Linked DNA regions of Homo sapiens. The protein of the gene in region 1 purifies or fractionates together with the protein of each later gene. This does not show direct contact. Each region holds a gene or a part of one and is shown on either strand. Other genes may lie near its edges.

Region 1 (3,651 bases):
GGGTTCAAGGGATTCTCCTGCCTCAGCTTCCCCAGTAGCTGGCATTGTAGGTGTGTGCCCCCATGCCTGGCTCATTTTTGTATTTTTAGTACAGATGGGTTTCGCCATGTTGCCCAGCCTGGTCTTGAACACCTGACCTCAGGTGGTGCACCCATCTTGGCCTCCCAAAGTCCTGGGATTACAGGTGTGAGCCACTGTACCTGGCCTCACTTTTTAAATAAGACGTTCAGTCTCGAAAGAGATTGACTTCTTCAGGGTCGTACAGATAATCATGGATAAAACTAACGATTTGGACTGAAAATTTTCTTGGTGATTCCTTAATGAATTTACATCTTTGCTTTTCCAGCAGTGAAAAGGAAGAAGACGATAATGAAAAGAGACAAGATCCAGGTGATAACTGGGAAGAAGGTGGAGGTGGTGGTGGAGGTATGGAAAAATCTTCAGGTCCCTGGAATAAAACAGCTCCAGTACAAGCACCTCCTGCTCCAGTAATTGGTAATTTTACTATTTCAGTTTCAGAAAGATGTCTAATTTATATATGATTTTATATATGGTCCACTTTCAACTAAGTGCATGATTGTGGTAGGGTGAGGAGGAGAGGCTCCTTTCCATTCCTGGTAGAGTGGGATGTGTATATATCTTGTTAAAGACTTTAAAATCCTAAATAAAAGGAATCTGGAAGTTAAAAGACATGCTTTTGTCCTGTATGTTGCTGTAAAATTTATATAGATATAGACTAGTCGATTCCAGTTTCATTTATTGGAATTGAGCATTTCTTCTAATATTCTCGTTAAATATTAACTACTTGCTAATGGAGGAAAAGGTAAGGAAAAGACTTTAATTTACTAGAATCCAAGGTCAGCTTCATTTAGGATTTTTAGTGGTAACTACCCTAGGGTTGGGTTTAACTCCAAAAGTTTTCATGAGAGAGAAAATTCCTAAAGCTTTTATCATTTAAAATATTTTTGACAGCTGAGTAAAGACAGAAAGACAAGGGGCCCTTGTCTTTCACTTGTGCTTTGTCTTTTTCATTCCCTATTTAACTTTCCTGTTCTTTGAAGCATGAATTCTCAGCAGGGCCAATTTTATCATTCTCAAGGTGGTAAAAGTTGCTTCTTATGGAATGAAGGAATCTTATACCTTAACAGTCATTTGTGGCCCACGAAAAGACTAGAATGCATAAACAGATGTATAGTATATCGCAGTATTAAAATTTCATGGAGTGGGGGGCAGTTAGGAAACAGATGTCTGAAAGGTCTCCTTAGGGCAATAATGAAAGTTTAAGAGCACTACTTTAAAGAAGTGTATACTCATTATTTTATTTAGAATGTTATAAAGAATAACATATCACTCCAAATCTTGTTATGCAGAAATCACAGATAACTACTCTATGTTAAATTTTTATTTTTATATTTTTTAGAGACAGGGTTTCACTCTGGCCCAGGCTGGAGAGCAGTCATGCAATCATGGCTCATTGCAGCCCCTCAACTGCTTGGGCTCAAGTGATCCTCCCACCCCAGCCTTCCAAGTAGACTACCGGGGCATGCCACCTGTTTATTTTATTGTAGAGATGAGATCTTAACTATGTTGCCCAGGCTAGTCTTCAACTCCTGGGTTCAAGCAATCCTCCCACCTTAGCTTCCCAAAGTGCTGGGATTGCAGGTGTGAGTCACCACACCCGGTCTTATGTTTTTAAATCATCTTTAGAATCTTTTTGTTTTGTTTGTTTTGTTTGAGACAGAGTCTGGCTCCTGACTTCAAGTGATCTGCCCGCCTCGGCCTCCCAAAGTGCTGGGATTACAGGCGTGAGCCATTGTGCCTGGCTAGAATCTTTTTTTCTTTTTCTTTTTTTTTTTTAAGACAAAGTCTCACTCTCTTGCCCAGGCTGGAGTGCAGTGGCACAATCTTGGGTCACTGCAACCTCCGCCTCCCGGGTTCAAGCTATTCTCCTGCCTCAGCCTCCCAAGTAGCTGGGATTACAGGCGTGCACCACCATGCCCCGCTACATCTTTGTATTTTTAGTAGAGACGGGGTTTCACCATTTTGGCCAGGCTGGTTTTGAACTGCTGACCTCAGGTGATCTGCCTGCCTCGGGCTTCCCGAAGTGCTAGGATTACAGGCTTGAGCCACTGCACCCAGCCCTGGCTAGAATCTTAAAAAATAACCACACTGGCATTTCATTAAAAAATTCTTTACATATGGCATCTTAATCAGTCCACCAATCAGGTAAAGAAGTAATTCATATTTACTGGTAGGGAAACAGGACTAAAGTCCTATTCTGAGAGGCAGTCCCTGATGAGACCAGTCATCCAAGCCCAGCAGATTCCTTTTCTACTTCCAGTAATTTGGCTTGTGGAACTCATCATTTACGTAGATTACTAAAGTTGTACGTGGAGGAGGAGTTAGAATACTACCCTAGAAAAATACAATGTTTTCACTTTTCTTTTTTCTTTTTTGAGAGCCGGAGTCTCCTTCTGTTGCCCAGGCTGGAGTGCAGTGGCTCAATATCGGCTCACTGCAACCTCTGCCTCCTAGGTTCAAGCCATTCTCCTGCCTCAGCCCCCTGAGTAGCTGGGATTACAGGTGCCTGCCATCATGCCCAGCTAAGTTTTGTATTTTTAGTAGAGACAGGGTTTCATCATGTTGGCCCAGCTGGTCTTGAACTCCTGACCCCAGGTGATCCACCCACCTCGGCCTCCCAAAGTGCTGGGATTACAGGCGTGAGCCACCACGCCCAGCCTGTTTTCACTTTCAGACATTTTCTGAAATGAATTCCCTTCTGTGGTCTGACCCAGAGACCCTGGTATTGTTTTTTCTATAATTGTTAAATGATTGGGAATGCAAGAATAGCTTATTAAAATGCTGAGCATTTAAATAGTTTATCTAAAAATTGTTATAAAATATTAGTTACAGAAACCCCAGAACCAGCGATGACTAGTGGTGTGTATAGGCCTCCTGGGGCCAGGTTAACCACAACAAGGAAAACACCACAAGGACCACCAGAAATCTACAGTGATACACAGTTCCCATCCCTGCAGTCAACTGCCAAGCATGTAGAAAGCCGGAAGTAAGTACTATAATTAATTGCATTTTGTTTGGGACTTCTGTTCCTAGGCCAGGGAGTGGGATATAGGGGATGTGCATACCCACCCAAGGGAGAGACTACTCCTTAACTAATAAAGCCTGAGCTTCAGCTGACAGGCAGGTGAGAATCAGGGTGGGACTTCATATGTCCAGAAGGGAGGAAAGGGGGAGGGCAAAGAGCATTGGAGACACTTTGTCTTCTGTCTGCAAAAGTTTATCTTAGCCCTGGTTTATGTTGTTTTATAGCAATGACAAGTTTTAATGTAGTTAAAATTCTTTTATAATTAAGTGGCTTTTGCTCCTTATAATATGGAAACTAGAAATATAAAAGCGCTGTTTAATTGTATTCCCAGTTAATGTGACTATAGACAGAAGATGTTGGCATTTATAAATCTAATATTAAAATAATCTTATTTCAGCAGGTACTTAAAATGAATGCTACCTGGAATTAAATGACTACATATGGCACATCTACATCTTACTTTAGGGACATGAATTTTTTAAAATAAATAAAATGGGAAGAAATGTAAATGACATCAGATGGAAATGTGTTTTTTGGGGTGGCTT
Region 2 (3,205 bases), on another chromosome or scaffold:
GACTTGTTCATTCCGTCGTTCAGGGGTTATTCATGGAGCACCTGCTGCACCAGGTGCCCTTCGAGATCCCTGAGCGTGTAGCCTCGTGGGGCTTAGGCTGGAAGTTGCATTCTAGCATTCTAGTGTTCAGGAAACATTTTTGCTCCCCAAGTCTTCTGACCCCGGCAGCCTTCAGCTGCCCTGCTGAGGTGGGGCGGGGATGGGCAGTGCCACTAAGCCTGTGTTGTGTTTTGTAGGCAACATCGAAACCAACCATAACCTGCCACCGTCGCACAAATCTCGAAACAACATCCTTCGGTGAGATCCGGGTGTGCGGGCTGGGGGCTTGGTGGGGCTAAGGTGGGGTGAGCCAGTGGAGTCTGGCTCCAGTCAGCCACCTGTCAGGCCTAGCAGCCTCTTTCTCCGTCCCCTCCCAGCACCAGCCTGGACCTCTATGCCAACGTCATCCACTGTAAGAGCCTTCCAGGCGTGGTGACCCGGCACAAGGACATAGACATCCTCATTGTCCGGGAGAACACAGAGGGCGAGTACAGCAGCCTGGAGCATGAGGTGTGCATGGGGGGCCCGAGATGAGCCCCCCCAGCGTCAAGATTAAGGGGAGAGCTTAAGGAACCAGGGACAGGTGTACCCTTAGAGGGCAGGGGCTGTGCCCGAGGGAGAAGCCAGAAATAGGCAGACAGGGTTGCTTCCCACGGTGGCCCGGTCGCGCCAGCTTGTTTGGCCAGTGCTGCTCTTCAGTAGCACATGGGTCTCTTCTCCCCATGCCCTCCTCAGAGTGTGGCGGGAGTGGTGGAGAGCCTGAAGATCATCACCAAGGCCAAGTCCCTGCGCATTGCCGAGTATGCCTTCAAGCTGGCGCAGGAGAGCGGGCGCAAGAAAGTGACGGCCGTGCACAAGGCCAACATCATGTATGTCCCCTGACCTCTCTGCGAGCAGTCCAGAAGCAGCTGCAGTGGCCTGCTTGGGCCTGCTCTGAGGGATTTGTGGTCCAAAAGCCCAGCTACCCACCGAGGTGCCACCCTAGGCGAGTGCCCTGTTGCCCTCGAGGCCTTGCCAGAACCCACACTTAGGGGAGGTGGGGTGGGATTCTGTCCATTTTGCTGGTGAGGGACAGGTTAGAATTCAGACCCCAGCCTCCTGGGGCCCTCTGCACGCCCCGTCCCTCTGGCTGACTGTTGCGATGGCCAAGCTGGTGTCCTATTCCTAACCCCCCACCAGGAAACTGGGCGATGGGCTTTTCCTCCAGTGCTGCAGGGAGGTGGCAGCCCGCTACCCTCAGATCACCTTCGAGAACATGATTGTGGATAACACCACCATGCAGGTATTAGCCTGCCCAGTGCTGTCCCCCTGCCCTGAGTGCCCTGGGCTTCTCTCACCCATGCTTCCGAATCTGCTCCTCAGCCAGCCCCCTCCTTGTCCCGCAGCTGGTGTCCCGGCCCCAGCAGTTTGATGTCATGGTGATGCCCAATCTCTATGGCAACATCGTCAACAATGTCTGCGCGGGACTGGTCGGGGGCCCAGGCCTTGTGGCTGGGGCCAACTATGGCCATGTGTACGCGGTGTTTGAAACAGTGAGTGCCGGTGGCAGTGCCGCGGCTTGCCGCCTTTCTCCTGTTCACAGACTTAGTGAGGCACACTCATCCCATCCGGTTAGCCCGTTCAAAATGCATGATTTAGTAGTTTTTTGGATATCCAGGGTTGTACTGCCGTCACCACCAGGTCATTCCAGAACATTTTCACCACCCCACGAGGAAAGCCTGTCCCCATAAGCTATCTGTCCCCACACCTTCCCCCAACCCCTGGCACCCGCTGGTGGGCTTTTGTCCCTGTGGAGTGGCTTCTTCTGGACGTGTCACAGGAGCAGAGTCACTGCCCGGCATCCTTCTGCCCTCCACCCACTCTCCTTCGTCTTGCCTCCCCAGGCTACGAGGAACACCGGCAAGAGTATCGCCAATAAGAACATCGCCAACCCCACGGCCACCCTGCTGGCCAGCTGCATGATGCTGGACCACCTCAAGTGAGTGGCTCCCAGTGCCCCGCAAGCCCCTGGCCAGCCCTCCGGGCCCCAGGGACTGAAGGCTGGCTGTCCCATCCTCTAGGCTGCACTCCTATGCCACCTCCATCCGTAAGGCTGTCCTGGCATCCATGGACAATGAGAATGTGAGGTTCCCCTCGCACCCTACCCTGCTGCCCCGCCCAGTCTCCCCCTGCAGCCTCCTGTAGCCCGCCTCATGCACTGACCACAGCCCCCAGGGGAGGATGGTACTGGATCTGGCCCCATCTTCTGGCCCTTAGCTGGTGCCACTTCCCTCCTGTGGCAATCCCAGTCCTGCACGTCACAGGAGACAGCGGGGGGTGGCAGGGCCTGGTGTGTGCCGAGCCTGCCTGTGTCCTACAGATGCACACTCCGGACATCGGGGGCCAGGGCACAACATCTGAAGCCATCCAGGACGTCATCCGCCACATCCGCGTCATCAACGGCCGGGCCGTGGAGGCCTAGGCTGGCCCTAGGACCTTCTTGGTTTGCTCCTTGGATTCCCCTTCCCACTCCAGCACCCCAGCCAGCCTGGTACGCAGATCCCAGAATAAAGCACCTTCTCCCTAGACTTGGCGTGGGCCTCCCTCACTCCAGGCACCGATGTTCAGTCCACACTTTATTAAGAAAGGAATACACACACTTTCTCCGAGAGCCCTCACGGGGGTCTCAGGCAGAACACGCTCTGAGAGCCGGGCCTGGCTCCAGCGTCTCTCTGCCCTGTGGTTGTGGAGAACTGGCGCCCAGCAGGGTGGTGGGAGCTGTCCCGCTTTTCCCTTAAGGCACGGAGAGCTGGAGGTGGAGCCACAGCCGGGCCTAGGGGTTGAGCCAGGGGTGCTGGAGGCAGTCAGCGGCACTGGCCCGCTTTTCGGGGATGTACTCCATCATGGGCAGCAGAAAGGCGCTGAACTGTGTGGCCTGCTCTAGGGGCCACTCGTACTTTTCCATGAGTACCTCGTACAGGCCCCAGTGCTTGAGATTGTGGATGTGCCGCAGCTCTCCTGCGGGCAGGCCAGCGGGCGTCAGGCTCTGTCCCTGTCTCTGGACCTGCCTTCTGCTTAGGCCCTGGCTCCTGGGACCCAGTGTTCCCTCTGTTGCAGAATCCAAGGTCCCCGTCCCACCCTCCCTGCAGCCACATGGCCTGAGGCTGCCCGGGCCCTCACCTCTCCG
Region 3 (3,651 bases), on another chromosome or scaffold:
AACACCCGCAAAGCCCAGTAGGGCTGGACTCTACAGTCGTACCTTATCAGCAGTGTGTTACCCCCAGGCCAGATGACTAAGGAAATCTGTAACCACGACTTTCAGGTTAACAGCATAGTGCTAAGTGAAAAAAGAAAAATGTTAAAACTGCAACTGTTTCCAAGCTTATTCTTAGACGGCCATCTTCCTTCTTTTGGAATCTTTCTGGTACTAGTACTTTTTTTCTCTACAAGTGTATCTCCTCACATATGTTTAGGGAAACCAGAATCCCAAGGATGTGAGTGTTTTGACAGGGTCAAAACTGATTTGGTGCTTTTTAACTAAAATCTTTGGTTATGGGGGTTTTTGGTTTTTTGTTGTTGTTGGTTTAAGATCTTAAGCACAGTTACATTCTGGGCTATAGTAACATCTAGATTACCATGTAACTATTTGCTTAGACATTAAAATATTCAGGAATGAAAGAACTCCCATTCGAACATATGCCAATGAAATGTGTGGAAAGATTACATTTAGTTAAGTACATTTAACTTGGGGCAAGTGCAGCCAGATGGTCCCCTCTATGAGTGTAGGAGCCCGTTAAGTTTAATATGATCTGAAACAACTATAGGTGAGAATTTTTGCATGAGAAATATTTTATTCCGACCCTACAGGGTAAAAGAAGGGCTATAAACTAAAGCCGAAGATATTCAGCAGCTTTCTGACGTGGACATCAGAAGTGTGGACATGAGTGTGCTTTGAGCGCACTGTGGAAGAGCAGTGGTTGTCCAGCAAGGTCCTAGGTGCCTCCGTGGCCTTTCGTACAGTGGGCAAGTTGGGCAGGACTCATCTTAAAAATCATGTGTATGTTATAAATAACAAAATTTATTTATTTATTTTTTTGAGACAGTCTTGCTCTGTTGCCCAGGCTGGAGTGCAGTGGTGCTATCTCGGCTCACTGCAACCTCCACCTCCCGGAGGGTTCAAGTGATTCTCCTGCCTCAGCCTCCCAGGTGGCTGGGATTACAGGTGCCCACCACCATGCCCAGCTAATTTTTCATTTTTAGTAGCGACAGAGTTTCACCATGTTGGCCAGACTGGTCTCAAACTCCTGACCTTTGGCCTCCCAAAGCGCTAGTATTATAGGCGCAAGCCATTGTGCCTGGCCAAAATTTATTTTTGAGAGGCCGGACACAGTGGCTCAGTTCTAGCTTGTTGTTGTTGTTGAGGATTTTGTCATCTGTTTGGCTTTATCTTACTGCTGCTTAATTTGTATTGTATTGCAGGTGGGAACATTCTCCATGGCCAGTGAGGAAGTCTTGAAGAATAGAGCCATAAAGAAAGCAAAGCGCAGAAATGTTGGATTTGAAGTGAGTGCCCCCTTACAGCTCTTGCTATTAAATACTCATTTGATTTCTGGGTTGCACAGCAATCCCTCCGCTGGGAGCAATGATATCAACAAATGCTTTCTTAAAATACTTATTCTTTGATGTAGGTCATGGGAGATAGAAAAAAATAAGAAACGTCAGGTCTGGACCTTAAAGAGAGCTTATCCAGTTGAGGAAATAAGATAAATATAGACAAATTCAAGTTGAGTGACAATCTGGAGAAGAAAAATGAGCAAAGCAATACAGAGGTGGGCGAAGTGGCATCAGATTGGAGGAAGAAAGGAAAACGCAAGGATCTTCTGAGAGTCTTGTCTGCTCCCTGCGATTGAGGCCTTGGTAGGGGGAGCCCTTTCACTATACTAGAGGCATTTTAGGTGTGGATTTTTTGCTAGTATAGTATATTAAAATGATTCATTCCTGTGCTAAGAAGGATGGAAGATGAGTTGTAACTCCTAAATTGAAATAATGTGCTGATTATTAAGCAGTCACTCCGCATCTAAGAACTCGTCCCCAGTACATCCTCTCCCTTCAGATACATTCTAGACCCAGGAGAGTGTGGTCTTGGTGGCCTGGACATCTGGTGTTAGGCAGGAGATGCCGCTTTGAATATCCTGGGTGGCAGCTTTGAAATAAACCTACCCTACCTCACGTTTTGCAGTGTTTAAAACATCAAGAATAGACTATATTCTTGGGTGTCTCTAATCTGGAAATCCAAAATGCTCCAAGATCTGAAGCTTTTTGAGCACCAACGTGATGCTCCAAGGAAATAGTCATTGGAGGATCTCAAATGGTCAGGTTAGAGGTGCCGTGCCAGTAAGCATAATGCAGACTTCCTGGGAGCGGAAATACTTACTTTCCTGAGCGTTCTCCTTAAGGGACATGCAAGCTTATTTCCCTTTTATTTCCAAAAAAAAAGGATAGGAAAGGTGTATCATTCACACTTTGAGAAGCAATGAAAAGAAATTGTTATTACAAAAATATTCATTACATTGCCAAAGTTTTGATCATAAAATGTATTAAAGTTTGAAAACGTAAGGAAGGGAGCCAGGTAGGTGGCAGTGGTGGGGAGGCAGTCAGTAAGACGTTTACAACAGCCAGTCACTCAGAGCGTCTCATAAATGGTGGTATGTGTTAATGGGAAAACAATTCAAATTATAAAAATAAAGTATTCGCAATTTTCCTAAAATATATTACTGTATATACCAATATAGTGTAATTCGAGGCAGAGATACGTAATCCTACATGAAATCGATTCTCAGGTGGTTCTGGGTAGTCTTGAACGTCTTTAGGATGCCATGGCTAATGTCATAAGTGTGTGCTCTTTCTCTGCTCCATTGCATGCTTCAGATGCATGAGAGGAGCTTCATTTCCTGACGTTGTAAAAGCTCTTTCATGTAGAATTCAGGTTAACGGGTTGCACTGCCAAGAAAGGAAGTAGGTACAGAGGAAGCATATCTCAGATCCAAGCTAGAGATTAGGTCTTGTGTTTTGTAATTAATTAATTATATTTTGCTTAAAAATTGTATTTCTTATTTGACAAAAATTATATACTTATGGTGTACAACATGGTCTTATTTTCAGATGCATAATACATTTCTACCTGCCTGTTGTACAGTAAACCTCTTGAACTTCAGGTGTTTTTTTTTTTTTTTTGTCTGGTTTGATTTTATGAATTGCCTTGACTGGTGACTAGGTGGTAGACGTAGGTGTTGAGCTGAGTGATATTTGATGGCTCTTTCACTGGGAAGATACATGGGGGGAGGGACAGTTTAATTAAGGAGGAAATGGTTGGTCTTGGAAATGCTGTATTTGAAAGGCCTTGGTACACTCAAGTGGAGTGCCCTGGAAGACCACTAGGTATACAACAGGAATTATGGCAAGGATGGGCACAGCTCCGGCAGCTTTCGTCATGTGGGGGATTGAGGCCATGGGAATGGGCGACAGGAGGCATGCAGGTGGAGGGTCCTACGAGGAGTGAGAAACAAAGCTCACTGCAGAAGCCAAGGGAAGCCATTCTGAAGGAGGGGCAGTCACCTGTGCAACCGAAGGAAGTTCAAGAGGTAGAAATAGTACAGACCATAATCTACAACTTAAGCTGAAGGGATGAGGGAAGGAGAGGGCAGGAGCCCTTGGGCAACTAAGGGAAATTAAGTGTAGGTGGATAATAGAAATCCACAGATAATTTTAGCTGTAACTCTTAGCCTGAAGTTTTCATATATTAGGACAATTAAATGTCATGTCACCCACCAGAATGCTGAAATGCGGCTTTTCCTAAATAGTGGATTCA

Evidence for each region.
Region 2: the proteins of CDV3 (region 1) and IDH3G fractionate together in Homo sapiens (co-fractionation; one large-scale study listed by BioGRID). This does not show direct contact.
Region 3: the proteins of CDV3 (region 1) and NUP50 fractionate together in Homo sapiens (co-fractionation; one large-scale study listed by BioGRID). This does not show direct contact.

The regions. Positions count from the first base shown.
Region 1 is NC_000003.12:133,583,656-133,587,306, forward strand, and holds part of CDV3 (protein CDV3 homolog), read left to right. Parts: intron 1-346; coding exon 347-495; intron 496-2,907; coding exon 2,908-3,067; intron 3,068-3,503; coding exon of another isoform or gene 3,504-3,519; exon of another isoform or gene 3,520-3,651.
Region 2 is NC_000023.11:153,785,167-153,788,371, reverse strand, and holds the end of IDH3G (isocitrate dehydrogenase [NAD] subunit gamma, mitochondrial isoform a precursor), read left to right. Parts: intron 1-236; coding exon 237-297; intron 298-416; coding exon 417-549; intron 550-774; coding exon 775-908; intron 909-1,218; coding exon 1,219-1,321; intron 1,322-1,424; coding exon 1,425-1,571; intron 1,572-1,922; coding exon 1,923-2,017; intron 2,018-2,099; coding exon 2,100-2,160; coding exon of another isoform or gene 2,161-2,223; exon of another isoform or gene 2,224-2,398; coding exon 2,399-2,500; 3' UTR 2,501-2,604; downstream 2,605-3,205. Other genes in the region: SRPK3 (SRSF protein kinase 3), read right to left, coding at 2,852-3,036, 3,199-3,205. UniProt on the Homo sapiens protein: Regulatory subunit which plays a role in the allosteric regulation of the enzyme catalyzing the decarboxylation of isocitrate (ICT) into alpha-ketoglutarate.
Region 3 is NC_000022.11:45,170,338-45,173,988, forward strand, and holds part of NUP50 (nuclear pore complex protein Nup50), read left to right. Parts: intron 1-650; exon of another isoform or gene 651-840; intron 841-1,262; coding exon 1,263-1,346; intron 1,347-3,651. UniProt on the Homo sapiens protein: Component of the nuclear pore complex that has a direct role in nuclear protein import. Actively displaces NLSs from importin-alpha, and facilitates disassembly of the importin-alpha:beta-cargo complex and importin recycling.